7 linked regions of the Homo sapiens genome follow. The protein of the gene in region 1 interacts with the protein of each later gene in a biochemical or structural test. Each region holds a gene or a part of one and is shown in the gene's direction. Other genes may lie near its edges. The genes, in order: SHANK1, ARVCF, SLC6A3, TMIGD1, SSTR2, SLC5A12 and TMEM225B.

Region 1 (4,271 bases):
ATCCCCGCCATGGGGCCCTCTCTCCTTTTCCCTTTGTTCTTTCTCAAACCTCAGTTCTTTGGTTTCAGTTAAAAATAGGCCCTCTCATGTCCCCAGTTCAAAGCCCCTTTCCATAGACTGAGACACAGCCCCTATTGTCACCCTTGTCAGGCCCCCCAGATGCACCCACCTGGGCTATAGCTGACATCACACAGACCCGGGCACGGCCTCCTCCCCTAAACACCCAGAACGTCTCCATCCCCTGTGGCCCAGCTTAATACCAAATCTGCCTCTGTCTCCCCAAGGTGTAAACCCTTCTCATTCCTTAAAATACGAAGTGAGCTCCCTGCTATGCCCCCAGATAGAGCCCCTCCACACACACCCTGAAAACAGCCCCCCAGCTACCCTTCCAAACCAGCACTGCACCAGCTCCCCTCCCTCCTCTCTCACATGCAAATACAGCCCCTTCCCCACGTACACAGCCTCAAATGCACTTTCCCAAATAGACAAACCCATACACCCACAAAATACATACACAGCGGCAGCTGCACAGTCTAATTTTAAAATACTCTTCTCCCCCTGCCCCCGCCAGGACACCTGATTGCTCTTCACATGAGGGTCAGGATGGGCTGCCCCCAAAGACAGCCATTGAGAAGCACCCCGACGCACAGCTGCTCCAGCTAAACGGCCCCTCCCTTCTCTCCCTCAGATGCTTTCCTGAAGAGCCCCTAATGCAGTCAGATGCCAGCCACAAAGATCTGCAGTATACCCCTGGAGTTAACAGATCCTCTTCATGTATCTCCCATGCACACTCACCCCCAAACCCACATCCTGCTCACACACGCCCCTCCCAGCCTCCAGACCTGCGCTATCCAAGCCAGTAGCCACTGGCCACCTGGGGCTGTTTAAATTTAAATTAAATAGAATGAAGTAAAATTAAAATTTCAGTTCCTCAGGCTCACTAGCCACGTTCAAGTGCTCAGGGGCCCACACGTGCCTGCCATATAGGGTGGTGCAGTTGCAGACCATCCCCATGATGGGGGAAACGTTCTGTTGGGTGGCACTGCTACAGGCTGTCCTCACACGAGGTTGCTGCCAAGACTTTCTCCTATTAATGTTCATTATTGCCAGCCTTCCACACCCAGAGCTGTCCTTCAAGTGGGGGCAGGAAGTGGCCTCCAGCCCCAGTGAGGCCGGCCCGATCCTTGCCCTTACCCAAGCTTACCTGTCCCCTGGCTTCCTGCTGTGCCCCTTCTTTGAGATCCTGGACCTAATAACACCTCCCACTTGGTCAGAGACCCTCCAGCATCCAGACTCTGTCCTCTCACTTGTCCCCAACAACCCACCTGTAGGAAGTGGAATGGGTGGGTACTGTGGCCCCTAATGTCTTTCAATGGCTCATCCAAGATCGCCCCCAGGGGGAAGGCTGGGTGGGATGTCAGAGTGCAAGTGTCCTCTGGAGGCATCTACCCAAGTCCCACATTGTTCACACGGAATCAGAGTGGCCCAGGGAGGGAAAGGGCCAGGCTCAAGGTTGCACAAGGGCATCACGGCAGAACTGAGACTGTCATTGGCCACTGTAGGTCACCCAGGACGGTCCAGTCCCCCTGGCCCTTCAGAATGAGCTGGTTAATGTGTGACTGTCATCTGTGTTTTTCTACTGGGTTCTCTCTCCGTTCCTAGGCGCTCCTGGACCTTGGGGGTTCCCCCAACTACAAGGACCGTCGGGGGCTGACCCCTCTGTTCCACACGGCCATGGTGGGTGGTGACCCCCGATGCTGCGAGCTGCTCCTGTTCAACAGGGCCCAGCTGGGCATAGCTGATGAGAACGGCTGGCAGGAAATCCACCAGGTGCTCCTGATTCAGGCCATGAAGGGCTGGGGTGGGGGACCCAGTCCCTGAGGCATCCAAGGGGCTGGGGCTGGGAACCAGATGCCAGGGTCCTCACAGAGCATGGGGGTGAGAATAACATGGTCCCCAAAGAGGAAATGGTGGGGGTGAAGGCAGAAAGACCCTAAGGGGGCATAGGCTGGGGAACCTGATGCCTTGACCCCTGAGAGGGATGGGCTGTCCTCTTGACCCCCTTAAGGAGGCAGACCAGACGCCTGGGCCTTGGAATGACTGAACATTTGGGTTTTGAGGCTGACAGCCTGGGTCCCAGAGCAGGAAGCGGGGCTAAAAGGTGATGGGGAGGTGGATGCGGTGAACGATAGGATGAGAAGGCCAGTGCACAGGTCATAGACAGACTCTTGGCCCAGAGGGAGAACAGCCTGGGTCTGATCCATGCCCCTCGCTCCCTGTCCTGCCCAGGCCTGCCAGCGGGGTCACTCTCAGCACCTGGAGCATCTGCTTTTCTACGGGGCTGAGCCTGGAGCCCAGAACGCCTCGGGGAACACGGCTCTGCACATCTGCGCCCTCTACAACAAGGTCTGCCTAGCAGCGGCCACCCCAGGCCCCTCACATCCCCGATAGCCGCCTCCCCCAGGGCCAAGCTCAGACACTCCTCTTGACTGCATCTCTGCACCCTCCACTTCTTCACTATTTCCACCCTTTCATCCAGTCATTCCTCCATTCATTCCTCCATCCATCCATCCATCCATCCATCCATCCATCCAACAGATATTTACTGAGCTCCTCTGTATCAGGCCTGGAGCTGGGTGCTGGGGACAAAGTGTTGAGCTCATGGCCTAGCAGAGGGCAGACAACATAGTTTGCTGCTACAGTCCAGAGTGCTCAGAGCAAAGTCACAGGGAATCCAGATCCCTGCGGGAGCCCACATCTGGGACTGGGCTTGGGATGGAGTGGCTGGGGGTGAAGGTGGCTTCCTGGAGGAGGTGCCCCCAGTGTTAAGATGAGCAGGAGTAGAAAAGAGGAGAAAGGGGTGCTCCAGGGTGGGGGCACAGCCTGTGCAGAAAGCCAGAGGAAAGGGGGCTGTGGGTCCTCAGTTCCCCTGTGTCTGCATTCAGCCAGTGGTGTGTGCAGGTGCCACGTGGCGGCACGGCAGGGCACAGGGGAAAGGCCAACGTGCAGCCCCCGTGGCCCCTGAAGGGAATGACAGTGGGATGGGAGTTTTAGCAATTCAGGACCTTGGGGGTCCTGACAACCTGGGTCCCTGAGCAGGAAGGGAGTGCTGAAGGGAGATGGGAAGAACACCCCCACTTCTGGAGTTCCTAGGAGAGGAGAGGTACGGAGCAGGCAGGGGGGCTCGTGGCAGCTGGTTGGCAAGAGCCGGGTCTTTCAATGTCATGACCTCTGGTACTTTAGCCACCTGAGCTGCAGATGATCCTGGGCAGGTCAGCCCCATGGAAAGCCTCAATCTCCCCACCTGTTTCTTGATGCTTCCTGCCCTTGAAGGGCAGCTGGTGGGGGTACTTAGAGAGACAGGCGCTAGCATGACAGAGCTGGTCTGTCAGCCCCCTTCCTCCAGGAAGTCTTCCAAAACAGCCCTCAGCCCCCTCTGCCTCGGCAGAACTTGCAGTGCTGGGGATTTGGCGGGTGGCCACGTGCCGCCTTGTGGCAGCCAGCAGTATGCCTGGAGCCCAGGGAAGACTCAGTGTTTGTCAAACCGAACCAACATGGTGCCGGCACTTCTCTCCCCACGTGCTCCTGTCTCCTGCTCTGCGACACAGGCCTCACAACCAATCCTCTGACTCCCAGGCCCTCGTGCAGCTGATGGGGAAGAAGCCCTGGCCCCACAGGCAGATGGGGGTGGGGAGCAAACAAGTCCCTCCCCCTCTTTGAGGCTCCATCCTTCTTCCTGAAATGGGAATAACGCCAGCTCTTATTGACGAGGGTGAGCCATCGTGTATACTAAGTGCTCATCCCTGGAAGGCAGCCATCAGAATAATAATTGTCATTGTTACCATCACCAGTGTCAGTCAGGGTCCAGTCGAGAGACAGAAACTGTACCGTTCAGATAAACAGAGAAATTTTGGTATAGAGAATTAGACCAGGCACGGTGGCTCATGCCTGTAATCCCAACACTTTGGGAGGCTAAGGCAGGAGGATGGCTTGAGCCCAGGAGTTCGAGACCAGCCTGGGCAACGTGGGAAAACCTGGTCTCTATGAAAAAATACAAAAATTAGCTGGGCACAGTGGCATGCACCTGAAGTCCCAGCTGCTCGGGCAGCTGAGGCAGAAGGATTGCTTGAGCCTGGGAGGTGGAGGCTGCAGTGAGCTATGATCATGCCACTGCACTCCAGCCTGGGTGACAGAGTGAGACCCTGCCTTAAAAAAAAAAATTAGAATTAGACAGCAGGCAGAGTTTTCTTAGTGGGACAGTTGCACAAGTC
Region 2 (4,271 bases), on another chromosome or scaffold:
CCCAGCTTGGCTTTTTGGCATCTCTGCCTGGGGCCACGCCCTGGCAGGTGCACTGCTGTGTGGAGAAGTAAGCTCCAGGTCTTGGAGACTGGTCAGAGGCTGTGGCACCAAGGGAAAGGGCATTTTGTGGTGGCCAAGGGCTTGCTGCCTGGTGAGAGATGCCAGCCTGGCTTGTCCTGGACTCTACCTGGGAGGGCCATAATGGGGATGGAGAAGATTCATTCATTCATCCATCGGACAGCAGCCACCTCCTGCCCTCTGGGAGCCTGGCCTGCAGGTGTGGGATCCAGGTGTGCAATCTCACCTTAACTCATTCTCTGTGTGTGCTAGCCAGGCCTTGGACAGGGGAGGGGCCTGCCCCTGCAGTCTGTTCTTCAGGACACAGACCGTGGTGCATCTGTGAAGTCCGGTGGTTTGGGTAGATAAGTAATATGGGACCAGGGCCCAGCCACCTGTGCCCCAGCATCCCTCTGTGTGTTGGTCCAATCTTGCTTTTCTGCTCCCTGTGTTCCTTGCATTTTGCCACAAAAGTGAGACTGATGCTACCCAGCACGTCCCACGACCCCAGCCCCCTCTGTCCTTCTCACCTCCTTGTGAAGAAGCTGAGCCGAAGGTGCGTGATGGGGCCCAGAGCCCCTATGCTGGGCTCAGCCCTGTGTTCCCGGGACCCTCTTGTGAGCAGGGGTAGGTGGTCTACCTCCCTGGTCACTCTGGCCCCTCCCACAAGCCCAAGGGAGCTCATGGGAAACCCCAGGCCTGGGCAGCAGCCTGTTTCTGGGCCAGTCCTGGGGGCCCCAGACCTGGTGCACCAGAGATTGAAGAGCCAAGGGAGGGATGAGTGCTGGGAGGCCGGGCGGGGTGCAAGAGGAGCAAGGATGGGGCCCCAGCTGGGGAGGGGGTGATGAGAGACGACTGACAGGATGCAGCATGTGGGATTGGGCTGGAGGTGGGGTGTTCAGGGTAGAGCCCATGTCTAGGGTACAGAGGGGAGCAGCCCAGAGTTGGGTCTGAGGCAGAGGCTGTGTGGGGCTGCAGGGCCAGGGTCCCTGAGAGTGGGCCAGCCTGGGCAGGTGCACGTCAGACATGGACACTGGGGCCAGACAGGGATCCAGGGACTGCAGCCAACTCCTGTTGAGAGTCAGCCCACCATTCCACAGCCCCACCCTAAAGATGTTGCAGAGAGCTGAGCCACCAGCTGGCTATGGGCCTCTCACTACTCTACACCTCAGTTTCTCCATCTGCCAGCCAGCTCTGAGACTCCCAGAGTGGATGCTGGGCAGATGATTGGCAGAGTTGGTGGCCCCTGTCCCTGTGTGTTGAGACTCTGTGAGGCCCTGCATGGATAAGGGTCTCCGATACACGGTGGAGGACGGGAGGATGTGTGCTCACGAGTGTGCCTCTGGGAACAGTGGGCGCCGTGCCCTTGGGGTGCTGTTAGAGCACACGGGTTGATGTGCTCGGCCTGTGCCGGGCTGGGTACTTGCACACGTGTATGTACATGCATGTGTCCCTGTCTGAGGGGTCATGTATATGCATGTGTGTGTGCCTGGGCATGTGTAGCAGGGGCCGGGCTTTCCTGTGATCACTGGCTGACTCATGCACCTGCCACCCGGGTGAAGTCATCCCTCGTTTTTAGCTCCCTGAGGTCATTTGCCAGCAGGGACTCTTGGGGCCTCTGGATCCTACTGCGGGGCTGCTAGGCCGGGGCTGATGGGTGGTGCCGCAGGGTTGCCAGGTCTTGCTGCGGGGGCGTGGCTCTCCTGGACCACCCCAGCTCTGCCTGTCAGACCCTCACCACAGCCTTGGTGGGAGGGATAAGCTGGGCCACAGAGTGGCATCGGGGTCCTGAGATGTCCTCCCCTTTTCCTCTCCCGCTTACCCCCACTGCCTAGCTAGGGAAGAGGGGGTTTTTCTCTGAGTTTTTAATAGATGTAAATATATACATATATGAGGGGCTACATCCCACTGGCAGAGTCCTGGGTAACGTTTCCTCAGTCTTGCTTTATACCCTCCTCACTCTGTCGCCAGAACTGCAGCCCCTCAGTGCCTGGGCCCCTGCTTGAACTCAGATGAGCCCCGCCCAGGGCCCAGCAGAGAGAGCTCAGGGCCTGACACACATTTGCCAGATACAGATGGGGCAGCCCAGCCCCAGCAGTGATGGGCCACACAAGCCTTCTCCTGCTTCAGAGCAGTCCCAGCTCCCCAGTGCCTTTGGAGAAGAGCCCAGCCTGCCCTGCCTGGCAGCGTGCCAGTTGTCCCCACTCTAGGCCTCAGTCTATTTCTTTTTCCCAGGGAACAGGTCCCCTTTTCCTAGCCAGGTCCACAGCAGGCATTCCACCTACATCTCAAGACTGAGGGCGAGATGAGGCCCAAAGCCTTCCTTGCCAGATTGCCTTCTCTGGGGGTGCTTGAAATCCCACTTGGACTGTGAAGTTCTAGGTAAATCCTCTTCCCCCTGCCAGGCCTCAGTTTCCCCATCTATAAAGTTATCTGTCATCCTCCAAGACCCTGCCTGTGGGAGAGGGGGAGGTGCCTTCTGTGGCCACTTCTTTCCTCTGTCAGCCTGAGGGATACACCTGTCCTAACATGTTGGTGCAGGCCCCTTCCTGGACACCTGCACTGCATGCATTTGGGGGTCAAGTATTCCCCCAGGATAGGACCCTGACCTGGGGAGGCTTCCCAGCCCACGAGCCTTGGCAGGCAGGTCCTGAGGGCAGCGCTGAGCATCTAACCTGGCTCACCTCCCAGGCCCAAGAATGGGCAGAGTCTGCCTCTGGAGCCTGGCAGAGCTTAGTGTCTGTGCAGGCCCCAGGGGGCCCAGGCAAGGGACCCATTGTGCAGGGACCAGGGGCCTGGGCCACAAAGCAGGACCTGTCCTCCTGCTGACCCTGCCCTGGCTGCCTGGGAATGTGCTCCGCCTGACCCACCCACCAGGGCTTGGGTTTCAGCTCCTGCCCATCCTGGCTAGATGCCGATCCCCGGATGTTGGTGCCATGTGGCCCTGGGGCCAGGCACCTGTGCAGTCAGAGGCCCGGGGCAGGCTGTGAGTCTTAGGTCCTCAAGCCACTCAGCGCGGCAGGGGTTGGGCCTGGCTCTGATGTGGGCCAGCCTATCCTCTTTGAGCCTCAGTTTCCCCACTGGCAAGTCCAGTCAGTAGGCATGTGGATAGAAAAGTCTCAGTCCAGAGTTGTCTTGCCTAGAATTCCAGTGTCGTCACCCCATGCAGAATGGTGGCAAGGGCACCCATAGGCTCAAATCTACTGTGTCTGGTCTCTGATATGATGCCCAGAGTCTCAGTCACTGGGGGCGCCAGCCACTGGCCCGAGGTAGGGCAAACCTGTGCCTACACAACACTCAAGAATGTCTGGGCTGGAAGGAATAAGGACATACTGGTGCTGCAGGTGCATGGGGTGTTCTGGGAACTGCGTATTTCTGTCCCTTGAGGGCGTCTGGCTGGCGTTGGTGGCGGGAACCTTAGTGTGGCCACAGGAGTCAGTAGGCAGTGCTGAAACAGCCCCCACAAGGCTTCTATACTCAAGGTGTCTGGGGCAGGTGAGGGAGGAGGCCCCAGGACACCATGATGTCCCAGCTAGGGGTGGTGGTTGACATCAGGAAGGCATGCTGCAGGTCTCACTGGCACCTCCTGGGGCCTGGAGGAGCCTGTGGCAGCCAGGCCATGCAGCTTGGGGAGGGCCCTGAAGACTTCACCCCCCAGGGTCTATGTCCTTATCTGCCAACTCAGCCTGAGGAGACCTGAGATGGGGGTCCAGCCCCAGGGTCCCCCCAGGATGGGGTGCCGGGGCAGGGTTAGCACCTCGATGTTCAGAGGGCAAGAACTTATTGCTGTCCTTGTCAGCTTGGGCCGAAACAGGCCTTGGGGTGGGTGGGTTCAGGACCAGGAGGAAGGCACCCTGGTGTGCTGGCCAGCATGAGCTGAGGCAGAGCTGCTGTGTGTGGAGACCTGCACTCCAGGGGTGACTGAGCAGCAGGCCTGCCCACCAATGTCCCTCCTTGCCCCAGGAGCAGAGCCCAGGCAGCCAGGCCTCACTGGCCACGATGCCGGAGGCACCTGATGTGCTGGAGGAGACCGTGACGGTGGAGGAGGACCCCGGCACACCCACTTCCCATGTGTCTATTGTCACATCCGAAGATGGCACAACCCGGCGCACCGAGACCAAGGTATGGCCAGGCCCAGGCAGTGGGTGGGTGAGCAGGGCCAGGCTGCTGCAGCTGTCCCACCTGCAGAGTGGACATGGAAGCTTGCCACGTGG
Region 3 (4,271 bases), on another chromosome or scaffold:
TGGGTAGACGCGCGGCCATGGGTGGGTGGGGGGACACGTGGCCGTGGCTGGGCTGGGCGGACACACGGCACAGTTGGGTTTTGGGTCCACGTGTGGCTGTGTTTGGGGAAGGGCCTCAGGAGGGAAGCACTCACAGCAGTGTTTCTGGCAGGAAGGCACACACAAGATGATTTTTTTGTTGATAAAAATACTTTGGGAGGCTGAGACGGGCAGATCACCTGAGGTCAGGGGTTCAAGAACAGCCTGGCCAACATGATGAAACCCCATCTCTACTAAAAATACGAAATTAGCCAGGCACGGTGGCACGTGCCTATAATCCCAGCTACGTGGGAGGCTGAGGCAGGAGAATTGCTTGAACCCAGGAGGCGGAGGTTGCAGTGAGCCAAGATCATGCCACTGCACTCCAGCCTGGGCAAAAAGAGCAAAACTCCATCTCAAAAAAAAAAAAAAAACTTTGGTTGTTATATGGGCCAAAACCAGTTTTGACCAAGATACGACTCCTCCCTTGGAAAAGTGCGTGTAGTATGGCACCAGCCACGGGAGCCTCCCGCAGGGACACAGCCCAGAGCAGCCCTTCATCGTGCCACAGTGCCGTTCACCAGTGTGAATCCACTCACGTCCCACGCATCAGAAAACCCCCATCAGCCACTCCCAGCTACTCTGGCGGACCGAATGCAGAAAAGGAATGTGCTTTCCCTGCCAAGTTGTTCTTCCCTTTCCATCCCTGGGGAGGGTGTGCAGGACAGAAAGTGTCTGACCTTCTCACTCCAAGGAGCATTTGCTGAGCTGGCGTCCCAGGAAATGTTTGGGAATTGGGCCTCCCAATCAGAGGACAAGCCGTCAGGGCAACCCGGTGCCCTTGTGCCAGTGTCTGCTCCCACCAAGGGCCCTGCCTGTGCAGCCTGGTGACACTGTCCTCTCCTGCAGGTGGTATGGATCACAGCCACCATGCCATACGTGGTCCTCACTGCCCTGCTCCTGCGTGGGGTCACCCTCCCTGGAGCCATAGACGGCATCAGAGCATACCTGAGCGTTGACTTCTACCGGCTCTGCGAGGCGTCTGTGAGTACAGTCTGCTCACTGCTTCACAGTCCACAGGGGCTCTGGCATTCCCAGGTTTCCATATGCATTGCCTGCCAGGGCTGAGAGGTGTCAGAGTTGCAGACACCAGGGTTCTTTCCTCGGGAAGCCAAATCCCAAGTACCTGTGATACAGCACGAGTCATCTAAATCAAATTACATCAGAAACTCCATCTAGACTCAGGCTGCAGCTTTGGTCAGCAAAAGAAGACATAATTCAGGGTTAAAATATTTGGAGAAAGCCTCCCGGAGAGAGGAGACTCAGCTGGGCCATGGGGGATGGGACCCTTGTCCAGAAAGGGAGGAGAAAGGGCTGCACCCTTCCTGGCAAACAGGCCCAGAAACAGAAGCAGCTGTTGGCGGAAGGCTGGCATGACAAAAATGGCAGCTCCCTTGGGGCATCGTTGGAAATCAGGTGGACTAAGTGGGGGAGGTGGCAGGCCCCAAAGCCGCCCAGGGGCATCCATGTTGCTGTGGGAGGACAATGCAGCAAGAGGGGAAGGGCCATCTCAGCTGGGGTATGAGGCAGGAGGCCGTTGAGAGGTGCTGCCCTGTGTGGGTGGGCCGGTGGAGCCAGGTCTGGGGGTCATGAGGCAAGTGTAAACCCAAGGCAGAAGTGGGAAGGAAGGGGAGAAGGGATGGGCGGGCATGGCTGCAAGCCTCCCAGGAAGCCCCAGGGAGGCAGCAGCTGACAGGTGCAGTGAGAGAGGGCACCTGGACATGGCACCTATGAGGCTGCAAAGCAGTTGGGTGGGGGTGGGGGTGGAAGTGTGCCTGCAGCACTGAAGGGGAAGCCCTGTGGAGACAGGAGCCATGGGTGCAGCAGGCGTGTGGCCCACGGGAGCCAAGGAAGAGAGAGGAGGACAACCAGGGCAGCAAAATCAGCTGTGGCCGGGGGCCCACAAGTGCAGAGCTGGAGCCAGACAAACCATGAAGTCAGCAGGGCGTCTGGACCCCAGAAAGGCCAAAATGAAGCCAAGGGGTGTGTTTGCAGGACCATGGCATGTTACAGAATCAAAGAAAAATACCACAAGGACAACGTAGAGCCTAGTGCTCCAGCTAGGAAGAATAGGCAGCCCCAGGAGGAGGCAAAACAAACACCAGTGCATGTGAAAAGATGCTCACTGGAGAACAAATTACAAAGATGAGATGTCAGAAATTAGGTGGAGACAGTGAATAGATTGGATGGATGGATGGATGGATGGATGGATGGATGGATGGATGGATGAATGCTAGGTAAGTAGGTGGATAGGATGGATGGATGATAGGTGGGTAGATAGAATGGATAGATAGGATGGGTGGATGGAAGGCTGGCTGGCTGGATGTATGGATAATGGATGGGTGGATGGAGGAATGGATGATAGGTAGGTAGCTGGATAGTATGGATGGATGGATGATGGATGGATGGATGGATGGATGAATGGATGATGCATGGGTGAATGGGTGGATGAATGATAGGTAGCTAGATAGGATGGACAGATGGATAATGGATGGATGATGGATGGGATGGATGGGTGGATGGATGATGGGTGGATTGCTGGATGATGGATGGCTGGGTGGATGGATGAATGATAGGTAGGTAGCTGGATAGCATGGATGGATGGATGGATGGATGATGAATGGATGATGGATGGGTGAATGGGTGGATGAATGATAGGTAGGTAGCTAGATAGGATGGATGGATGGATGGATAATGGATGGATGACGGGTGGGTGGATGGATGATGGGTGGATTGCTGGATGATGGATGTTTGGGTGGATGGATGAATGATAGGTAGGTAGCTGGACAGCATGGATGGATGGATGGATGATGGATGGGTGGGTGGATGGATGGATGGATGGATGATGGGTGGATTGGTGGATGATGGACAGATGGGTGGATGGATGAATGATAGGTAGCTGGATAGCATGGATGGATGGATCGATGATGGATGGGTGGATGGATGGATGATGGATGGGTGGATGGATGGATGATAGGTAGGTAGATAGGATGGATATACAATAGGATGGATGGAGATAGATACATACACACACATGTACTTCATATATTCATAGATGATAGACAGTTGATAGATTATAGAGATGACAGATAGATGATAGATTGGTGATGGATTGATAGATGACAGTGATAGATGATAGATAGATAGATGATTGATTGATAGATAATAGATGATGGATTGATGTATAGTGAAGAGAAATCAGGAAAGAAATGGAAGGAAAGGACAATTGCAGGTCCTGGAGTGAAAGTGCATGAGGTGAGGCCCAGGGAGGCAGCCATGGGCACTGGCTCTGGTGTGGCACTGGGCAGAGGCCTGAGCTGCACACACAGATCAGGGTGAGGAGGAGGCAGGCGCTCCCCTGTGACACCTGATCCAGCCTGCAGCTACCTGGCCAGGCAGGTGGCTGATGACCAGCATGGGAGCCACATCAGGGTATGAGCCTCTCCACCCACTGCCCACCCAGCCACTCTCGGCTTGGCTCCTCCCCTCATGCTGAAACACTGGCCACCTGCAGAGTCCTGACTGCGGGGCCTGGCCATCTGCCTCCAAACACACTGTCCCAGGAACTGGGGTTGCCTTGAGGCTCTGACATGCTGCCCAAAGGACAGAGGGCCCCGCCCCCTCTGCAGCACCCAGTTCCCTTGCTCAGTCAAGCTCAGGCAAGCTTGACCTGGGACCTGGGATGCCCTGAGACCCACCTGGCCTCCCCAGCAGGAGCATCTGGTGTCTCTGCCTCAGCATCCTGGCCCACAGGCCTGTACCATGGGCTCCAGGGACTTGCAGGAACAGCCCTAACTGACCAGTCCCTCAAATGCCTCCAAGGGGGGGTTGGCTGCTCCTTCTCCCCCATCCAAGGCCCAGGGAAGGGCAAGGTGGGCATCTGAGTCACTGAATGGTCTCCGCAGTGCCCTCACCTTAGCAGGTTGTGGCTGACTTTTTAAAATACCACAATGGTCCAATCGTGGACCCACCCACCTTTCCTTTCACGTCCAGAGTTGTGGGTGCCATCCACCGAGTTGGGCAGGCACAGCACCAGTGTCTAAGCTGCAGGTGGGCTCCTGGCCATGCCCAGGTGCCACTGTGCACCTGTACTGCTCATGTTTTGGGAAGGATACAAAGCAGGCATTGCTGGTGTGCGTCCAATCAGGACACCATCATCATGTAGCATGTGGATGGGTCCATGCCTTTCTGAG
Region 4 (4,271 bases), on another chromosome or scaffold:
GAGACAGAGGTTGCAGTGAGCCGAGATCAAGCCACTGCACTCCAGCCTGGGCGGCAGAGCGAGATTCTGTCTTAAAAAAGAAAAAAAGGGTCTCACTATGTTGCCTAGGGTAGAGAGCAGTGGCTATTGATAGGTGCAATCATAGGGTGCTATAGCCCTGAACTCCTGGGCTTAAGCAATCCTCCTGCCCCAGCCTCCCAAGTGTCTGGGACTACGGATATGCCACGCTGCCTGGCTTTCACTTTTACTTTTGAGAGTTTCATTCCATATCATATCAAAGATATTAAAGCAAAGCACATTGTATGTGCTTTCTGCTATAAAATTTTTGAAAGAATTTTTATAACTTGTATAGATTTTGAATTTTGTTATAAATAAGTTACTCATTTGGTTCTTGAGGTTTAAACATTATTATTTAACAGTTCGGTTAGAGTTGATGCCAGGTTGCATTTTACAGATGCTTAAACATTGATTAATTTTGATTAATTTTGCTACTTTCTTTTCATATCTTGGGGCCAATCATTTTTTTCTGGGTCTCAAATATTTTCAAAGGCTCTTAGAAAGCTTGCAAACACAGGCACTATGCCTATAGTGACTGATAAATAAAGTAGCTCTTGGCCCGGTGCGGTGGCTCATACCTGTAATCCAAGCACTTAGGGAGGCCAAGGAAGGCGGATCACAAGGTCAGGAGATTGAGACCATCCTGGCTAACACAGTGAAACCCCGTCTCTACTAAAAATACAAAAATTATCTCGGTATGGTAGCACGTGCCTGTAATTGCAGCTACTCGGGAGGCTGAGGCAGGAGAATTACTTGAACCTGGGAGGCAGAGATTGCAGTGAGCCGAGATTGCACCACCGTACTCCAGCCTGGGCAACAGGAGCAAAACTCCGTCTCAAAAAAAAAAAAATAGCTCTCAGTTGACCTGGTGTTTAGAAAATAAAGGGGTAGGCTTTCACTTCCAAGCTGTCATGGTTGCTGCTGATCTCTTCCTAGTCCAAGTTAGAAGTAGGCTCTCTCTCTTTGCATGGCATTTAGAGAGATGCAGAAAACTTTGCCAAGGTTGGGAAGGCTCATGCTTAGAGTCCTACTTCCCTAGAGACACTATGCAGCCACCTACCTTCTATAATGTCTTGTCACCTGCTTGGGGCACCATTGCAGTACAGGTACAAGGCTCCCCACTGCTTTTGAGGCCCACAGACCTCTCTCTCCTTCTTAGTCCAGAAAGCTCTCCACCCTTTCTCTTCTTGCTCTCAAAGCCTTCCTCCCTCTCTTCCCTCACCCACCCCAGGATACTTCCCAATATATTTTGGACTTTTCAAAATCCAGGCAAAATCGTTGACTTCAATCTACTTCTGCTCTGTGTGTGGCAAAAACTGTGGGTGAAGGAAGCACAAAATGGTCTACTTGTTTTAGGGGAGTTACTCATATTACAATAAATTATTATTCCACAAAGGAATTGATTCAAAACCTGCCTCTACCATTTACCAGTTCTGTGACTTTTTTTTTTTTTTTTTTTTTTGGAGACAGAGAGAGTCTTGCTCTGTCACCCAGACTGGAGTGCAGTAGCGCGACCCTGGCTCACTGCAACCTCTGTCTCCTGGGACCAAGCAATTCTCCTGCCTCAGTCTCCCAAGTAGCTGGGACTACAGGCACTTGCCACCATGCCCAGCTATATATATATATATATTTTTTTTTTTTTCTTTTTTTTTTACAGATGGGGTTTCACCATGTGGGCCAGGCTGGTCTTGAACTCCTGACGTCAAGTGATCTGCCCGCCTCAACCTTCCAAAGTGCTGGGATTCCAGGCATGAGCCACTGCACCCGGCCTAATTCTATGACTTTGAACAAGCACTCTAACCCCTCAAACCTCCTGGTTCCTCACCTGTGAAATGAGGACAATCATACCTACTTTTTGAGATTGTTGAGAAGGTTTAATTAAGGGGATGACACACATAAAGTTCAAGGCACCATTGCTGGGACGTATTGGAAGTATATAAATGTTCATTCTTATTCCCTGTGTTTGCATTTCCTACAGATAAAACTGTGGGTGTACCAATAGAGCCCATTATTGCTGCATGTGTTGTGATCTTTCTGACATTGTGCTTTGGACTGATTGCTAGAAGAAAGAAAATAATGAAGGTATCTAAGTATTCTGAGCTATTTAAGTAAAAAGCCATCATCTGAATAAAGGCAGAAAGCTAGAAATATAAGTGACTTCAGTTAGGAACCCTTCTTGGCAAAGTCAAATCTGGTCTTTATACCATGAGATCTAAAATACAGTTGCTCAAGGGAATAAAAATTATATGTACATTATGAGTACAGATTTACAAAGAAGAGAAGTGCACATGGGCAAAGCCTGAATTGAAAATAGCTGTGTTGCCAGGGGTAGGCAATTGGGGGCTGATTTTCCTCCTTTTAAATTGCCCTTTATTGTTGCTATGATACCTGTGGTATAATAAATAAATATAGGGAGGAACATCCGCTCTAGATTCAGAGATCTGCATGGAAAAGATGGCATTGGCTGCTCACTTCTGGACTATAGCCACATGCCCTGGCTGTAGTGGACTGGTGTTTGAATTATAAAGTGGTTATCCTCGTTGGTTGGTATGATTCAGAATACGTGCATGCTTAGGTTAATGCCATGCATTTGACTCTGCCAGCTAATTCAGTGCCAAAGGAGAGCAAAAAAGGCAGAAAGCCCTAGGCTGAGTTCATCATTCAGCAAGGGGCATTCTCCTTGGAACACATAGCAACAGGGCAGCCATGTCTCTCAAGAAGAAATTCACTCCACCCCCTATTCCAATCCCAAGCATATTTTAGTTGTTGTTGTTTCTTTTCTTTCTTTCTTTCTGTCTTCCTTTCTTTCTTTTTTTATTTTTTTGAGATAGAGTTTTACTCTCTCTCCCAGGCTGGAGTGCAGTGCCTTGATCACAGCTCACTGTAGCCTCAACCTCCTGGGCTCAAGTGATCCTCCCACCTCAGCCTCCCTAGTAGCTGGGACCACAGGCATGCACCACCGTGCCCGGCTAATTTCTGTATTTTTTGTAGACAGGGTTTTGCCATGTTGCCCAGGCTGGTCTCGAACTCCTGAGCTCAAGTGATCTGCCTGCCTCAGCCTCCCAAAGCACTAGGATTACAGGCATGAGCCACCACACCCAGCCACAAAGCATTTTTTTCTTTTTTTTTTTTGAGATGGATTCTTGCTCTGTCACCCTGGCTGGAGTGCAGTGGCGTGATCTCAGCTCACTGCAAGCTCCACCTCCCAGGTTCACACCATTCTCCTGCCTCAGCCTCCAGAGTAACTGGGACTACAGGCATGTGGCACCATGCCTGGCTGTTTTTTTGTATTTTTAGTAGAGACAGGGTTTCACCATGTTGGCCAGGCTGGTCTTGAAATCCTGACCTCAAATGATCCATCTGCCTTGGCCTCCCAAAGTTCTGGGATTACAGGTGTGAGCCACTGCACTCGGCCGCATTTTTTTTTCTATAAAAAAGTAAATACTCAAGTATCTAAGACACTGGAAGCATCTTAACTAAGAGTTACATCTTCTTTGAGTTTAATAAAAACTACTAGTGTGGCCCCAAAAATGACGCCTGAGCCAGTGCAGAGGTGTGCACAGGACACACACCTGTCCTCGAGCCATCTTAATGCATTCAAAATATTTCTCCATGGGCCTTAAAAAGCAGGCTAATTTACTGCCATGTTTGCTTTTAGCTCTGCATGAAGGATAAAGACCCTCACAGTGAAACAGCTCTGTAAGTACTCTAGGCCGGGACCAGTGCTTTTTAAATAAGCAGATGAATAGCAGTGATATGCATCACTCTAGACAAACTCCAGAGATGGGAGGTGCTGGAAGGGGAAGGGGTTCAAAGGAGAATAGAAGGTGGAGGAAAATCTGCCTCCACTTTAGAGGAAGACAGGTTGAAAAGTTGCCTAGAATAGAGAACACCTTTAGTCCTAAGCCTGCTCCCTCTTTAAGTGAGTTTGCCCAATGTTTGTGCAACTGCATTTTATTGCCACACAATGCAAATGCTCTGGAGGAAGTCACTGGTCCATACTGCTTTACAACAAGGCCAGGAACCACATTCATCCCCATACTGCCTTCTCTTTGCAGCTTTGTTTAGCGCTTCTAGCATATGTGAAGTGGGTAGTAGGTAATAAGAACAAAGGCATGTTGTCAGAGAGTATGGGTTTTGTTTTGAATTTTTTTCTTATTGCTATGAGCATCATTATTATTAATTTCTTCATTCATTTCAGATGAGAAAGCTGA
Region 5 (4,271 bases), on another chromosome or scaffold:
GAGAAGATATTTGAAGAACCAGAATGTAAATTCATGTGTTTCCACTTCTCAGATATAGTCAGAGAATTATTCATTTGCCCAAAAGGACTTAAGTGGTTGTGGTCATCCATCATTGTATTTATCAAGACAAAGCCAACTTTGTTATAAGATTGCATTTTTTTCTTTTCAAATTGCTTTAGTTTTTCTTAGGGAGCTATGAGGGGGAAAAATCACTAACATGAAAGGCAAAAAATGGACTATGATTCCTGTGGGGAAACAATTTCATTCTCTCCATCGTGAAAATAAGTGAATAAGAGTGAAGCAAAATTACACCTTTATGAGAAACCATAAAATTGTTTTTATTTTTCAGGCCAGACATAGCTTCCTAATGAAAGAAAATGGAAATGTAATTCGACGACTCCTCAAAGGGGACTTTAGAGGACTTCATACAAAGCTGGGCATTAAGAAAACCACAATGCATGGCCGGGCGTGGTGGCTTACACCTGTAATCCCAGCACTTTGGGAGGCCGAGGTGGGTGGATCACCCGAGGTCAGGAGTTCGAGACCAGCCTGGCCAACATGGTGAAACCCCATCACTACTAAAAATATGTAAATTAGTCGGGCGTGGTGTCACGTGCCTGTAATCCTAGCTGCTCGGGAGGCTGAGGCAGGAGAATCACTTGAACTTGGGAGGTGGAGGTTGCAGTAAGCTGAGATTGTGCCACTGCACTCTAGCCTGAGCAACAAGAGCAAAACTCAGTCTCAAAAAAAAAAAAAAAAAAAAAAAAAAAAAAAAAAAAGGAAAACCACAATGCGTACTAAAGACCAGAAGACATTGTTCACAAAACAAAAGCACCCTCACCTGCCAATGAATATGCAGCGTGCAGGGGGTGTGGTGTGAGTGTTGGTGGGGCCCCACCTCTCGGAGATACTGCTGTGCTGCCTTCCTCACTGACTGTATACATAGTAACTGTCATATCTTTAATGCCATGGACTCACTGAGCCGCTCTGCAAGGACTATTGTAGACAGGCACTTCACACCATAAAGTGGCATTTTTTTCGTTCCCCAAACTGACATTTACAAGCGATAAGAAAAGAGACAATATCCATTTCATTGACTGATCATTTTCTAGAGTATGAAGAAATACACACCTGGGTGTCTGCAAGGATGTCATCATCTTTGGGTTTCATCTGAGAGCATCACTCAGCATCTCACACATAGATGTTACCATATTTTTAAATGAGCTTTCCTCATCCGGCTCCCTAAGCAAGCGCTGTTGGCCGGTGGGAGTGACTAAGTGCTCCACCTGTGGGTGTCCTTCTTAATGTGCTGCTTTTGTTCTGTATAAATTCACACCACCTCACTCCCAAAAGTACTTCCTGTGGCTCAGAAAAATATGTTCAATAAGATTTTGGATAGATAAATCCATACAAAAATAAAAAGAGGTATAGTTATAAAACAAGACTACAGAAAAAGTTGTGGCAGAAATTGCATGCAGGAAAATCCCACACCATTAGTAAAAGTAAGGTCAACTGTAAGTTCAGCTCAGGGCTTCCTAGCAGCCATGTTTAGCGAAGTGTGATTTTTTTTTTTAAACAAAAACAAGCAAAGATTTGGAAGAAAATGCTTTAGACCTAACTTTACAATTATTATAACATAAGATGTTCCAGGGTCCTTGAATAAATGCTGAGTTTTAGGGAAATGATTCCAAGGGACCAAGAATTGGTAGAAATAATTTCAAGGCAGAGAAGACTAATTCTACAGGCCGGGCGTGGTGGCTTATGCCTGTAATCCCACACTTTGGGAGGCTGAGGTGGGTGGATTGCCTGAGGTCAAGAGTTCAAGACCAGCCTGGCCAACATGGTGAAACCCTGTCTCTACTAAAAATACAAAAAATTACCCAGGCATGGTGGCGGGCGCCTGTAATCCCAGCTACTTGGGAGGCTGAGACAGGAGAATGGCTTGAACCCAGGAGGTGGAGATTGCGGTGAGCTGAGATCGTGCCATTGCACTCCAGCCTGGGCAACAAGAGCGAAACTTCATCTCAAAAAAAAAAAACAAAGACTAATTCTATAGTACCCATGACCCTGCAACCAGAGAAACTGCCTGTAGGGAGGCCAGAGTCCAAAGCAGCCACCTGTAACCTGAAAATGAAACGCAGACCCAGGCATCTGTGGGTCTTCATCAGCAGGATGACCATTCTAAGGCTAAAAGACAGGCCTTTAAATCTGATGCTATAATTCCATCCAAATACACAGTTAGGTTTCTACCATAGGGAAAGCTATTCTCTACTTTTTGAAGTATCTGTTTCAAAGATAACTTGCTCTCTGGTTCTCTTTTATCTAAAAGAGAGAATCAACATGCTAATTTAAAGGTTAACATCATTTTAATTCAAAAATTTTAGTCTCCATTCCATATTTAATGATGAAGACAAATCTGCTGGGTGCTGGGAGGGAATAAAAAGTAATGCACCCCATTGATTTCAGAGTATCTGATCACTTGGGTTATGCAAGCTGCTACTTACCCGCCATTAGCATGGGTAGTTAAGTGCTGATTAAACCTAAGTGGACTCAGTGAAAAAGATATTGGGAAAAATAATATGATATTGTGGCCTATGTTGAATGATGTTAGCTTGTGTTTCAGTAACAGAGTTGGGTAATACTGGACGTGTAGATGAAGCTTTAGCAGGGCTGGGCACGGTGGCTCATGCCTGTAATCCCAGCACTTTGGGAGGCTGAGGCGGGTGGATTACCTGAGGTCAGGAGTTCAAGACCAGCCTGGCCAACATGGGGAAACCCTGTCTCTACTAAGAATACAAAAATTAGCTGGGTGTGGTGGCGTGTGCCTGTAATCCCAGCTACTCAGGAGGCTGAGACAGGAGAATCGCTTGAACCCGGGAGGCGAAGGTTGCAGTGAGCCAAGATCGCGCCACTGCACTTCAGCCTGGGTGACAGCACAAGACTCCATCTCAAAAAAAAAAAAAAAAGGAAGAAGAAAAAGAAACTTAAGTGGGGTTCATACATAGCATGGCAGAGGGACACTGGAGAATAAAATGGCATGCAGAGAGGAACACGCGGGCCAGTGGATGAGGCTTCTAGACCTGGCAGTGAACTGGAGTCTATTTGCTTACACAAATTTAACCTTCTCTCCATGATGGAATACAAGTGTTTCTTGCCAAAACTCGCAGCCCCAGCTGCCCTAGATGAGGAGCACCGTGCTGGAAAAGTGCACAGGCTGATCACAGAGACAGGTAGGAAGCAATGGACTGTTAAAATGCATGTTCCGGGCTGGGGATGGTGGCTCACACCTGTGATCTCAGCACTTTGGGAGGCCGAGGCTGGGGAATCGCTTGAGCCCAGGATTTTGAGACTAGCCTAGGCAATATGGTGAGACCCTGCCCTTAAAAAAAAAAAAGAAAAGAAAAGAAAAGAAAAAAAGATTCATATTCCTGATCAGCTCTGAATGTGACTATTCAATGAAGACAGTAAAGTTACAGTGTAAGGCACACATGACCTTTGGCCTTGCTAAAGAAGAGTGGCTGAAGGTCTAGCAAATTAATGCTTGTCTTAGGTTACCTGTTGATTTAAAAACAACAACAACAAAAACCCATAAAAATAGTAAAATATAAAAACAAATTAGTGTTTTATAGACCCTGGGGAAAAGAATTTTCAGCAAAGTACAAAAATTTAAAGCATTCCTTTCTTTAATTTTGTAATTCTTTACTGTAGAACAGCTCAAAATATCAGTTCTGTTTTAAGTAACAGAATTGATAACTGAGCAGGGAAACGTAATTTGGATTGTAAAATTCTTGCTTTAATAAAAATTCTTTAAACAGTCAAAATAGAAAGAAAGAAAGAAAGGTGGCAAGAGAATTATCAAAAGTTTCCATAGATGGTTGGGAAGATCTGATTAGTGTTTCCAAAATGCTTATCATTCTAAGAATCCCAATAGCTGGCAAGCCAAGCAGTGGAACTTATAGTAACAACAATCAATCACTTGTCTCATCCCACATTTTTGCCAAATTCAAAAACACCAAATTTCCCATCAAATGTTCTGTCAGAGTAAACCTTTACCTAAGTGCTTGTTTTGCTTTTAATATGTGAATTTCTGGGAACATTCCCATGGGCAGCCTCTAATTTTTTTTTTTTTTTTTTGAGACAGAGTTTCGCTTTTTCACCCAGGCTGGAGCGCAGTGGCACGATCTTGGCTCACTGCAACCTCCACCTACCGGATTCAAGTGATTCTCCTGCCTCAGCCTCCCAAGTAGCAGGGACTACAGGCACGTGCCACC
Region 6 (4,271 bases), on another chromosome or scaffold:
CTGTTGTGAATATGCCTAATTTCTCTATGTTAATACCTGAAAGTTAGGAAATGTGTCTTTTTAATCATTTTTCCCCACAAGACCAAGAACAATGCTTTGTGCTTACTAAACGTTTATCGCTTATTAAACAAAGTAATGCCTCGAGAAGGCCATGCTTGTGTGTATGTATATACACAGGGACACACACAAGTATGGATGGGCATATATATATGTGAGTGTGTATGTGTATACACTTATATACGTATATATAATATATATGTAAATGAAACTTAAGGCTAACTAATCAGAAGCCACCAATGAACTTATTGTTATCTAGTTAGGAAATTTCCAACAAGAAAGGCCAAGTAATAAAATTATATAGCTGTAATCAATCAATATGTGTACACACATACACACACATTTCTGTATATAAATCTTAAAACCTGATTTAGTAAAGTAGTTTAATTCAAGAAAAATGAACACAATCCCATTCCTATAGTTGCCTGGAACTTGGAATTTGTTGTACTAGTATTTAGTGAGTATGAAAGCTGTCAGAAAAGGAGGCATACTCATGAAGACAGAAATGTACATAATTTCCTAACAAATGTACATAATTTTCTAATATTCAGGACTGCCATTCCTGGTTCCACTCATGCCAACTCCCATGAAGGGATTAGGACTGTGATAGTAATTTTGTGAGAATAATGAAAGATGAAAAAATAAAAATTCTCTTTAGAAAAGGGTTCCCTGAGAGAATCTAAGGTGATAGGGTTAATAAAATTCAGGAGAGAGAAATCAGTTCAGATGTTTGGTATAGTTGCAGTGCACAGAGCTGGAGGGGAGATTGCTGTAGTGAGAAAATGGTGAGGGGGGTCCCATCTGTCACACAGCTGGAGCCTTGAGGGCACTCAGGGGCATCTGGAAGCCACTCAGAGCCAGCTGCTGACTGACTGTCACTTAGGAGGCTCTGAAGATGTTGATGAGATGTTCTGCTTTTGTTCCATTATCTGAGAGCCTAATGTAATTAAGACATTCCATGCGGCTTAGAAAAATCTCTGGTACTTGAGGAAAATAAATCCTGCAAAATAGGTAAGTAAAAATAGATCCATAAAGTTCACACTAAAAGTGGGCATGGGTTAGAATCAGGAGTGGCTCATATACATGCATTTGGTTTCATGACCAGAAATGTGATTAGTCACCAAAGACAACTTAATCTAAAGCCAAATCTTCCTTGCACCTAGAAATAGTATCACTTACTGAGACACTTACATGTGCTTCCTGGAAGCTAACTGTGTTTCTAATCCCTTGTTTATCTTTCAGGTCTGCTGGTAGCAAATGGTGCTATGAGGGTAGAAGGAGTTGATGCAGGGTATCACGTCCCATCTCCCAGTTACGATGAGCACATCTACACACAGTTGCATTTCCATTTCCACTTCCTTAGTTTATTTTCCCCATATCTCTATCAGATCTAAAATTATCTGATTTATTTATTTATTTATTTATTTATTTTCAGTGTTCATTACCTGCTTCTAATCCCAAAATGTAATCTCCATGAGGTTGTCTTCTGCATTGCTTCCTGCTATAGCTACAATACCTAGAAGAGGGCCTGGTACAGAGAGTTGCCCAATAAATACTTTCTGAATGGATCAATGAAAAAGCCTATTTTACAAACAGAAGAATTAGCCCTGTATAGAACCCAAGTCCATTTTAAATGAGAAACGAATTCAAAATACAATGACTTTAATATTCTATTTCCACTGGTTTCTCATTTCACATAGTTGACTGATGAACTTATAAGATTGTTCTGGATAATGTATGACTGTCCTCTGTATGGCTATATAACCTCCACATATTTTTACAGAGTATAACTCATTAAATCCTCATAATCCTATAATAAAAAGTAAGGCAGTTATGTTACATTCTTTTTACAGATGATATAACTGACTCAGAGTGTTATGTGATTTGTCTAAAGTCACACAGTTGTTAAGGATAAAGACTTTTAACTCCAGGTCCAATGGTATATTTTAAAAAGAAACAGTGTAAAAAATGCAGTTATGTAGTAAAGAATTTCTACCATTAATTTCTTCAATCATTTCATTATTTCTTACCAAAAAAATAATTTTATATTTGCTATATGCTGGAACTGTTCAGTGCTCTGGGAACACAAAACAATAATACATGAATAAATATAGAATTTCAGATCATAAATACTATAGTGACATAAATAATTATAAGGAGTAGAAACTGACAAGAGAGCAGGAAGTGACTGTTACAAATAAGGATGAGCAGGAAAGTCTCTCTAGCCAGCCAGAGCAAAGGCTTGAATAGAGTTGGCCTGAAGGTTGGAGACAGCAAGAGTACAACTAATGCAATTATCGGTATTGCTCATTTTATGTAGCAATTGTATTCCCAAAGCCCACCAAGAAAAACAAACAAACACATAAAAATCATTGCATTGGCAAAATACTTTCAAGGAAGTAGACTTTGAGATAAAAACTTCTTCTAAACTGTGAGGTGAAAACTCCTCTAAATGGGATAATTATCTGGCGTATTTGCCTTATAAATGTGGACTTTGATTTAAGGGTCTTCTGAAAATCAAGTACACCTGTACGGTATAGGTTTTAGAGGATTTTGAAATAAACGTGTGTCTTTACATTTAAATATGATTCCCTTCAAACAATGACTAGATCTTAGACAATGTTCAGCGTTGCTCTCTTGGCCTCCTGCGGCCATCTCCACAGTGAGGTTGTTTATTCTCTCAGGCCAAGGTAAGGCCAGCCTACTTTCATGTCCTCTCTGGAATTGAGGAAATTAGTAAAATTTTTACTTTCAAAGGACAGTAATGAATACAACATAACCGTAGGATACTACAAAAACACCCAGACTGGAATTAGGCATATCTGTGGGTTTTAAAATAAAATGAATTGCACCACATAGTATGGGTAAGATGATCCTAAGTTTTTTGTACTTTCTGTTGTCTTTTTAAAAAACCAACTCTAACTTTTATCTGCATTAATCTCCAAAGTGAATATTTCCAACACTTATCTATTTCTGTGTTAGCTCATTATCTCTCTGGAAAAAGATGTTAAAAATGTAAGTTGCCTTTTTGACAGTTTTATGAATTGAGTAGGGGGAAAATCACTTGAAGTTATATAATATGAGTGATTGGTATGTGAAATTTCATCCAAGAGAATAGATCTCATACCACACATATCAAGGTTTTGCAAAAACTCTTGATTTCAAAGGAAAATTCACTTAAAATCTTACTTTATTTAAATTTGGTAGTGAGTCTAAAAATGTAATGTTCTCAAGCAAAAAAAAAATAGCAAAAGTATAAAGTGTAGTGATTCTTAAAGGCTATAGAATTTTATTTTACTAGCAAAAAGACCCAAAACCCTTTACCTTGAGTACCTGGTAATGACCTCACCACAGTATGATATGGTATACAGGCTACCAATAGGCCCATGTGCTCTTTTCTAGTGCCTTGTATTTTAACTTGCTGGGTCTCTGGATCATTCTGGTGTGTGCTGTCTTCTCTGGCTTAATCATGTACTCTCACTTTAAAGACTGTGACCCTTGGACTTCTGGCATCATCTCAGCACCAGACCAGGTATGGGTTTTCTTGAGGACAGTGGCGAGTGTCTGGAATGAGCGTGCTTCTAGCTATTGGTGGATAATCTTGGCCTTTCTCTTTTTCTTCCTGGACTGCTCACTATTTCTCAAACCCCAAGAAGTTGGTTTCTTTCTTCTCTTGGGTGATATCAGCACCTACCAGGTTCTAATACAGGGGAATGAGCATGTAAAAAAGAGGGCACCTTGGCCAGGCACGGTGGATCACACCTGTAATCCCAGCACTTTGGGAGGCCGAGGCGGGCAGATCACCTGAGCTCAGGAGTTCGAGACCAGTCTGGCCAACACGGCAAAATATCGTCTCTACTAAAAGTACAAAAATTAGCCAGGCAAGGTGGCGGGCACCTGTAATCCCAGCTACTCAAGAGGCTGAGGCAGGAGAATTGCTTGAACCTAGGAGGCAGAGGTTGCAGTGAGCCAAGATCGTGCCACTGCACTCCAGCCTGGGCGACAAGAGTGAGACTCCGTCTCAAAAAAAAAAAAAAAAAAAAAAGACGGCATCTCACCTTGTTCTTAAAGACAAGGTCTGGCAGCATAGCAAGGCTGGAGAGAGTGGAATGCAGGCTTGAACCATGGCTTTGGATGTCGCTGCTGCCTTTGGACTCTTCCTACAGGTTTCACAGTTGATTAAGGAACCTCAGATTGAAGAAAACGACCCTTAT
Region 7 (4,822 bases), on another chromosome or scaffold:
TGCTAACACTTGATATTATTAATATCATAGACATTATTAACACAACACAGGGTGCTAACACTGGATATTTTTAGTATCATAGATATTATTAACATTGCAGTGTGCCAACATTGGAAATTATTAATGTCACAAATATTGGTAATAGCACAGTGTGCTAACACTGGATATTATTAATATCACAGATATTAGTAATATCACAGTGTGTTAATACAGTGTGCTAACACTGGATATCACTAATATGATAGATAATATAGATATTAGTAATATCACAGTGTGTTAACAGTGTGCTAACGCTGGATATTATTAATGTCACAAATATTAGTAATATCACAGTGTGCTAACACTGAATACTATGAATATCATAGATGTTAGTAATACCACAGTGTGCTAACACTGAATATCATTAACATTACAGATATTAGTAATATCACAGTGTGCTACTATTAATATAATAATGTTAATACTATTGACACTATATTAGTAATATAATAGTGTTAACACTGTTATTAATATGAGAGTTAATACTACTAACACTATATTTTTAATATGATAGTGTTAACACTACATTACTAATATGTGTTAACACTATATTATTAATATAATAATGTTAATACTATTAACACTATATTATTAATATAATGGTGTTAGCACTATATTATTAATATAATAGTGTTAACACTATATTATTATTATTATTTGAGACAGAGTCTTGCTCTGTCGCCCAGGCTGGAGTGCAGTGGTGCCATCTCTGCTCACTGCAAGCTCCGCCTCCCAGGTTCACACCATTCTCCTGCCTCAGTCTCCCGAGTAACTGGGACTACAGGCGCCCCCACCACGCCCGGCTAATTTTTTGTATTTTTTAGTAGAGACGGGGTTTCACCGTGTTAGACAGGATGGTCTCGATCTTCTGACCTCGTGATCCGCCTGCCTTGGCCTCCCAAAGGACTGGGATTACAGGCGTGAGCCACCGCGCCCGGCCTAACACTATATTATGAAACACTATATTATTATTATAGTGTAGATACTATTACATTATTAATAGTGTTAACACTATTATCATTAATATAATAGTGTTAATACTATTAACACTTTATTATTATTAATTATAATATTAATATACGAGTGTTATTAATTATTAATATAATTATAATACTGTTAACACTATATTATTAACAATTATTATTAATATAATAGTGTTATTAATATAATATGTGTTAACACTATAATAGTGTTAACACTATATTATATTGTTAATATTATAGTGTTAACACTATTATATGATTAATAGTGTTAATCATGTATTATTAATATAGCAGTGTTAATAGTAACCCTATATTATTAATACAATAGTGTTAATGCTATTAACGCTATATTATTAATATAAGTGTTAACACTCAACACTATATTACTAATATAATAGTGTTAATAGTATATCATTAATATAATAGTGTTAATACTATTAACACCATATTATTAATACTATTATTATTCCCATTTTACAGATTAGAAGCCCAGGACCCAGGAAGGAGACACAGGAAATTTATTCAAAGTCCCCACGCTGGTAATGGCAGAGCTAGGATTTGAATTCAGATCCCTCCCGCTCTCTGTTCCTCCGCCCCCACACACCCGTGAGCGAAGCCGGTACTGTGGGCAGACGCCAGGGCCTGGTTTCCCCACCCTCCACCCGCCAGGTTTGCGGTGGCCGGGGCGGCAGGTAGGGAGGTGAGCCCGCGTCTCCTCCGCAGAGCTGGAGCTGGAGCTCCGCTCAGAGGCCCAGGCTCAGTGGGCTCCTCCCCCGGGTCGGGGCAACCCCCCGCCGGGGCCTCTGGGGCCAACGGAAGCTCCAGGAGCGCGGTGGAGCCTGGAGTGGAGGGCGAGGGTCCCACCGTGACCCGCCTGGAGGGCAGCCCAGCTCTGGGACGCGAAACCGCCTACGACGGTGCCGCAGGTGGAGGGAAGGGTAGAGGGGAGACCAGTATGGGGGAGAGCAAGGTGGCCCCACAGGTTGGGAGAGGATGTGGGGAAGTCCCCCTACCCACCCAAGGCCGAACATCGCCTAACTGGCTGTGGGACGCCCGGGGCAGGGGCTGGGGGCGGATGGCCTGGTTAGGGCCCAGCTTGGGGTCTTGAAAATATCCCTATGGCTTTGGGGCCACAGAAGGGCGGAGTCCTGGCATTCAGGGGAAAGGGCCGAGGACGGTTGTCAACGGGAAGGAACCTCTGACCCTACCCTGGGTCAATGTGCAGTCCAAGTTGCCACAAATGACCGGAGGAAACAGTGGGAAGGGAAGGTCTCTTTCCCATTCCAAACCAGGATGCCCTTCAGGTCGCCCACTTCCTTCATCCCCAGAGCAGCTGCCGACTTTCCTGTTAAGTGCCAGGGCCTGGGAGGTGCGGGGCTGCAGCTCAGGCGCTGAAGGGGGCCTAGGGTCCAGGAACCTCCTGCCAAGCCAGTGGTCCTCAGACGCTGGTCCAGGCACCACCACGGGGTACACAGCTTTTCTTACCTCCTGGTGTTATGGGTCCTTTCTGTTTTTTGAGACGGAGTCTCGCTGTGGCTGTGTCGCCCAGGCTGGAGTGCAGTGGCACGATCTCGCCTCACTGCAAGCTCCGCCTCCCGGGTTCACGCCATTCTCCTGCCTCAGCCTCCTGAGTAGCTGGGACTACAGGCGCCCCCACCACGCCTGGCTAATTTTTTTTTTTTTTTTTTTTTTTGTATTTTTAGTAGAGACGGGGTTTCACCGTGTTAGCTAGGATGGTCTCGATCTCCTGATCTCGTGATCCACCTGCCTCGGCCTCCCAAAGTGCTGGGATTACAGGCGTGAGCCACCGCACCCGGCCCATGGGTCCTTTAAAAAATAATAATTTGGCCAGACGTGGGGCCTCATGCCTGTAATTTCAGCACTTTGGGAGGTAAAGGTGGGAGGATCACTTGAGCCCAGGGGTTGCCTGGGCAACATAGCAAGACCCCATCTCAAAAAAAAAATTAGCCAGGTGTAATGGCATACACCTGTAGTCCCAGCTACTCGGGAGGCTGAGGCAGGAGGATCGCTTGTGCCCAGGAGGCATGAATGCACCACTGCACTCCAGCCTGGGTGACACAAGACCCTGTCTCAAAAAAGAACAACAACAAAAATTTGAATAAAAACCAAACCAGTGACAGTAGATAAGTTGCTTTGTTTTTAATGCTCTTGGCAAAATAAAAAGTTGGCAGTCGTATATTCCCCCATTCTCTCTCTCTTTCTCACACATGCACATGCCTATAAGAAAGCATTCTCTGGATCCACAGAATTCCAGATTTGGGAATCACTGAATTGAACTGCCGGCCATTGGTGGCTGGTGAGACTGTCCTGGCAGTGATGCAGTATTCTGGTCCCTGTGCCAGCACTGATGGGCTGTGGAATCCTCCACCAGTCATTCCCTCTCTCCAGCTCTCCATCTCTGCTTCTGTACAAAAGGATCTACCAATCCCCTCTTATATTCAAATATCTATGACCTTTCAGTCTGGCCTATATCCGTGCGGATCTGAAGTTGTGTATCCGAAGATGTAACCTTGTCCAGTGCTGGCACTAAGGGCTGCTTCAGGGAGGGACCTGGACTGGTGCCCAGGGAAAGGAGGACAAGGTCCTCATCACTGGAGAGTGGAGGGGGCAGTGGGAATGGGACAGATAAGGGGTAGTGCCCTGGGGTATACCTGGCCCCAAAGTAACCCCGGGCTGTGAAGACAAAAGCACTGCATCACATGATGTGTTTCTGTGTCTCTCTCCCTAGCAGTTCCAAGAGCCTCTGAGTTCCTGCCTTTTTTCATCTCTGAATCCCCACCATTGGCCTACATTGGGAGTGGGGCGACCTGTAAGTGCACAGTGAATTTTTGCTGAGGGAGTGGCTGGGAGGGCTGCGTGGAGTGGACAGCACCAAGCTGCACTTTTCAGGGGAGTGGGGTTTGGAAAATCTGGGGAGCAGAACAGGCACCCCCGCCCCCAGGAAGGAACCCAGGTGTATTAGTCTGTTCTCATGCTGCTAATAAAGACATACCCAAGACTGGGTAACTTATAAAGGAAATAGGTTTAATTGACTCGCACCACATGGCTGCAGAGGCCTCACAATCATGGCTGAAGGCGAATGAAGAGCAGAGTCACATCTTTCATGGTGGCTGGCAGGAGAGAGCTTGAGCAGGGGAACTTCCACTTATAAAACCATCAGATCTTGTGAGACTTATTCACTACCACGAGAACCGTATGGGGGAAACTGCCCCCGTGATTCAATTATCTCCACCTGGCCCTGCTCTTGACACATGGGGATTATTACAATGCAAGGTGAGATTTGGGTGGGGACACAGCCAAACCAAATCACCAGGTACAGAGGCCAGAGGAGCCTGGGGATGACGGTGATGTTCCAGGTGTGGAGGGAGACGTGGCAGGCGTGGGGACAGGAAGGTTGGAAGGTTGGGGAACTTTATGAAGGGAAAACTGAGAAGATGAGGAAGGCTGATGAGATGGAAGTGGGGTTGGGGAGAGGGAAGAACCAGCATGAGCTCAAGGCTAGGGTTTGGGTGAAGGAGAGAAAAAAAGGTAGAAAATAAAGGAGACAGAGATCACTTCTAGTCACATACAGGTGGAGATGGGGTAGACAGGAAGAGGTGCCCCCTATCAAATGAGAATGCCCAGTGTACTCCCATCTATACAGAGGACAGGATCAAGATGCAGCCATGACTCCTTCCCATTGAGTTCTAATACTAGAAGGATGCCTCAATGCCCTCTGGTCCAACAGACTTCATCATTTTAGATAGAAGGAAGTGGAAGCCCTGAGGTTGGGGTGACTT

What was found.
Region 2: the proteins of SHANK1 (region 1) and ARVCF interact in a test that uses a peptide from one of them, tested with the Homo sapiens proteins (one large-scale study listed by IntAct).
Region 3: the proteins of SHANK1 (region 1) and SLC6A3 interact in a test that uses a peptide from one of them, tested with the Homo sapiens proteins (one large-scale study listed by IntAct).
Region 4: the proteins of SHANK1 (region 1) and TMIGD1 interact in a test that uses a peptide from one of them, tested with the Homo sapiens proteins (one large-scale study listed by IntAct).
Region 5: the proteins of SHANK1 (region 1) and SSTR2 form a complex in vitro, tested with the Homo sapiens proteins (one study listed by BioGRID).
Region 6: the proteins of SHANK1 (region 1) and SLC5A12 interact in a test that uses a peptide from one of them, tested with the Homo sapiens proteins (one large-scale study listed by IntAct).
Region 7: the proteins of SHANK1 (region 1) and TMEM225B interact in a test that uses a peptide from one of them, tested with the Homo sapiens proteins (one large-scale study listed by IntAct).

Annotation. Positions count from the first base shown.
Region 1 is NC_000019.10:50,709,506-50,713,776, reverse strand, and holds part of SHANK1 (SH3 and multiple ankyrin repeat domains protein 1), read left to right. Parts: intron 1-1,662; coding exon 1,663-1,830; intron 1,831-2,289; coding exon 2,290-2,406; intron 2,407-4,271. UniProt on the Homo sapiens protein: Seems to be an adapter protein in the postsynaptic density (PSD) of excitatory synapses that interconnects receptors of the postsynaptic membrane including NMDA-type and metabotropic glutamate receptors via complexes with GKAP/PSD-95 and Homer, respectively, and the actin-based cytoskeleton.
Region 2 is NC_000022.11:19,981,841-19,986,111, reverse strand, and holds part of ARVCF (splicing regulator ARVCF), read left to right. Parts: exon of another isoform or gene 1-2,439; intron 2,440-4,020; coding exon 4,021-4,179; intron 4,180-4,271. UniProt on the Homo sapiens protein: Contributes to the regulation of alternative splicing of pre-mRNAs.
Region 3 is NC_000005.10:1,417,360-1,421,630, reverse strand, and holds part of SLC6A3 (sodium-dependent dopamine transporter), read left to right. Parts: intron 1-927; coding exon 928-1,062; intron 1,063-4,271. UniProt on the Homo sapiens protein: Mediates sodium- and chloride-dependent transport of dopamine. Also mediates sodium- and chloride-dependent transport of norepinephrine (also known as noradrenaline). Regulator of light-dependent retinal hyaloid vessel regression, downstream of OPN5 signaling.
Region 4 is NC_000017.11:30,316,678-30,320,948, reverse strand, and holds part of TMIGD1 (transmembrane and immunoglobulin domain-containing protein 1 isoform 1 precursor), read left to right. Parts: intron 1-2,035; coding exon 2,036-2,139; intron 2,140-3,715; coding exon 3,716-3,756; intron 3,757-4,258; coding exon 4,259-4,262; 3' UTR 4,263-4,271. UniProt on the Homo sapiens protein: May control cell-cell adhesion, cell migration and proliferation, cell morphology, and protects renal epithelial cells from oxidative cell injury to promote cell survival.
Region 5 is NC_000017.11:73,171,179-73,175,449, forward strand, and holds part of SSTR2 (somatostatin receptor type 2), read left to right. Parts: 3' UTR 1-4,271.
Region 6 is NC_000011.10:26,697,724-26,701,994, reverse strand, and holds part of SLC5A12 (sodium-coupled monocarboxylate transporter 2), read left to right. Parts: intron 1-3,459; coding exon 3,460-3,589; intron 3,590-4,271. UniProt on the Homo sapiens protein: Acts as an electroneutral and low-affinity sodium (Na(+))-dependent sodium-coupled solute transporter.
Region 7 is NC_000007.14:99,596,434-99,601,255, forward strand, and holds the start of TMEM225B (transmembrane protein 225B), read left to right. Parts: upstream 1-1,833; 5' UTR 1,834-1,948; intron 1,949-2,170; exon of another isoform or gene 2,171-2,315; coding exon of another isoform or gene 2,316-2,369; intron 2,370-3,771; coding exon of another isoform or gene 3,772-3,852; intron 3,853-4,822.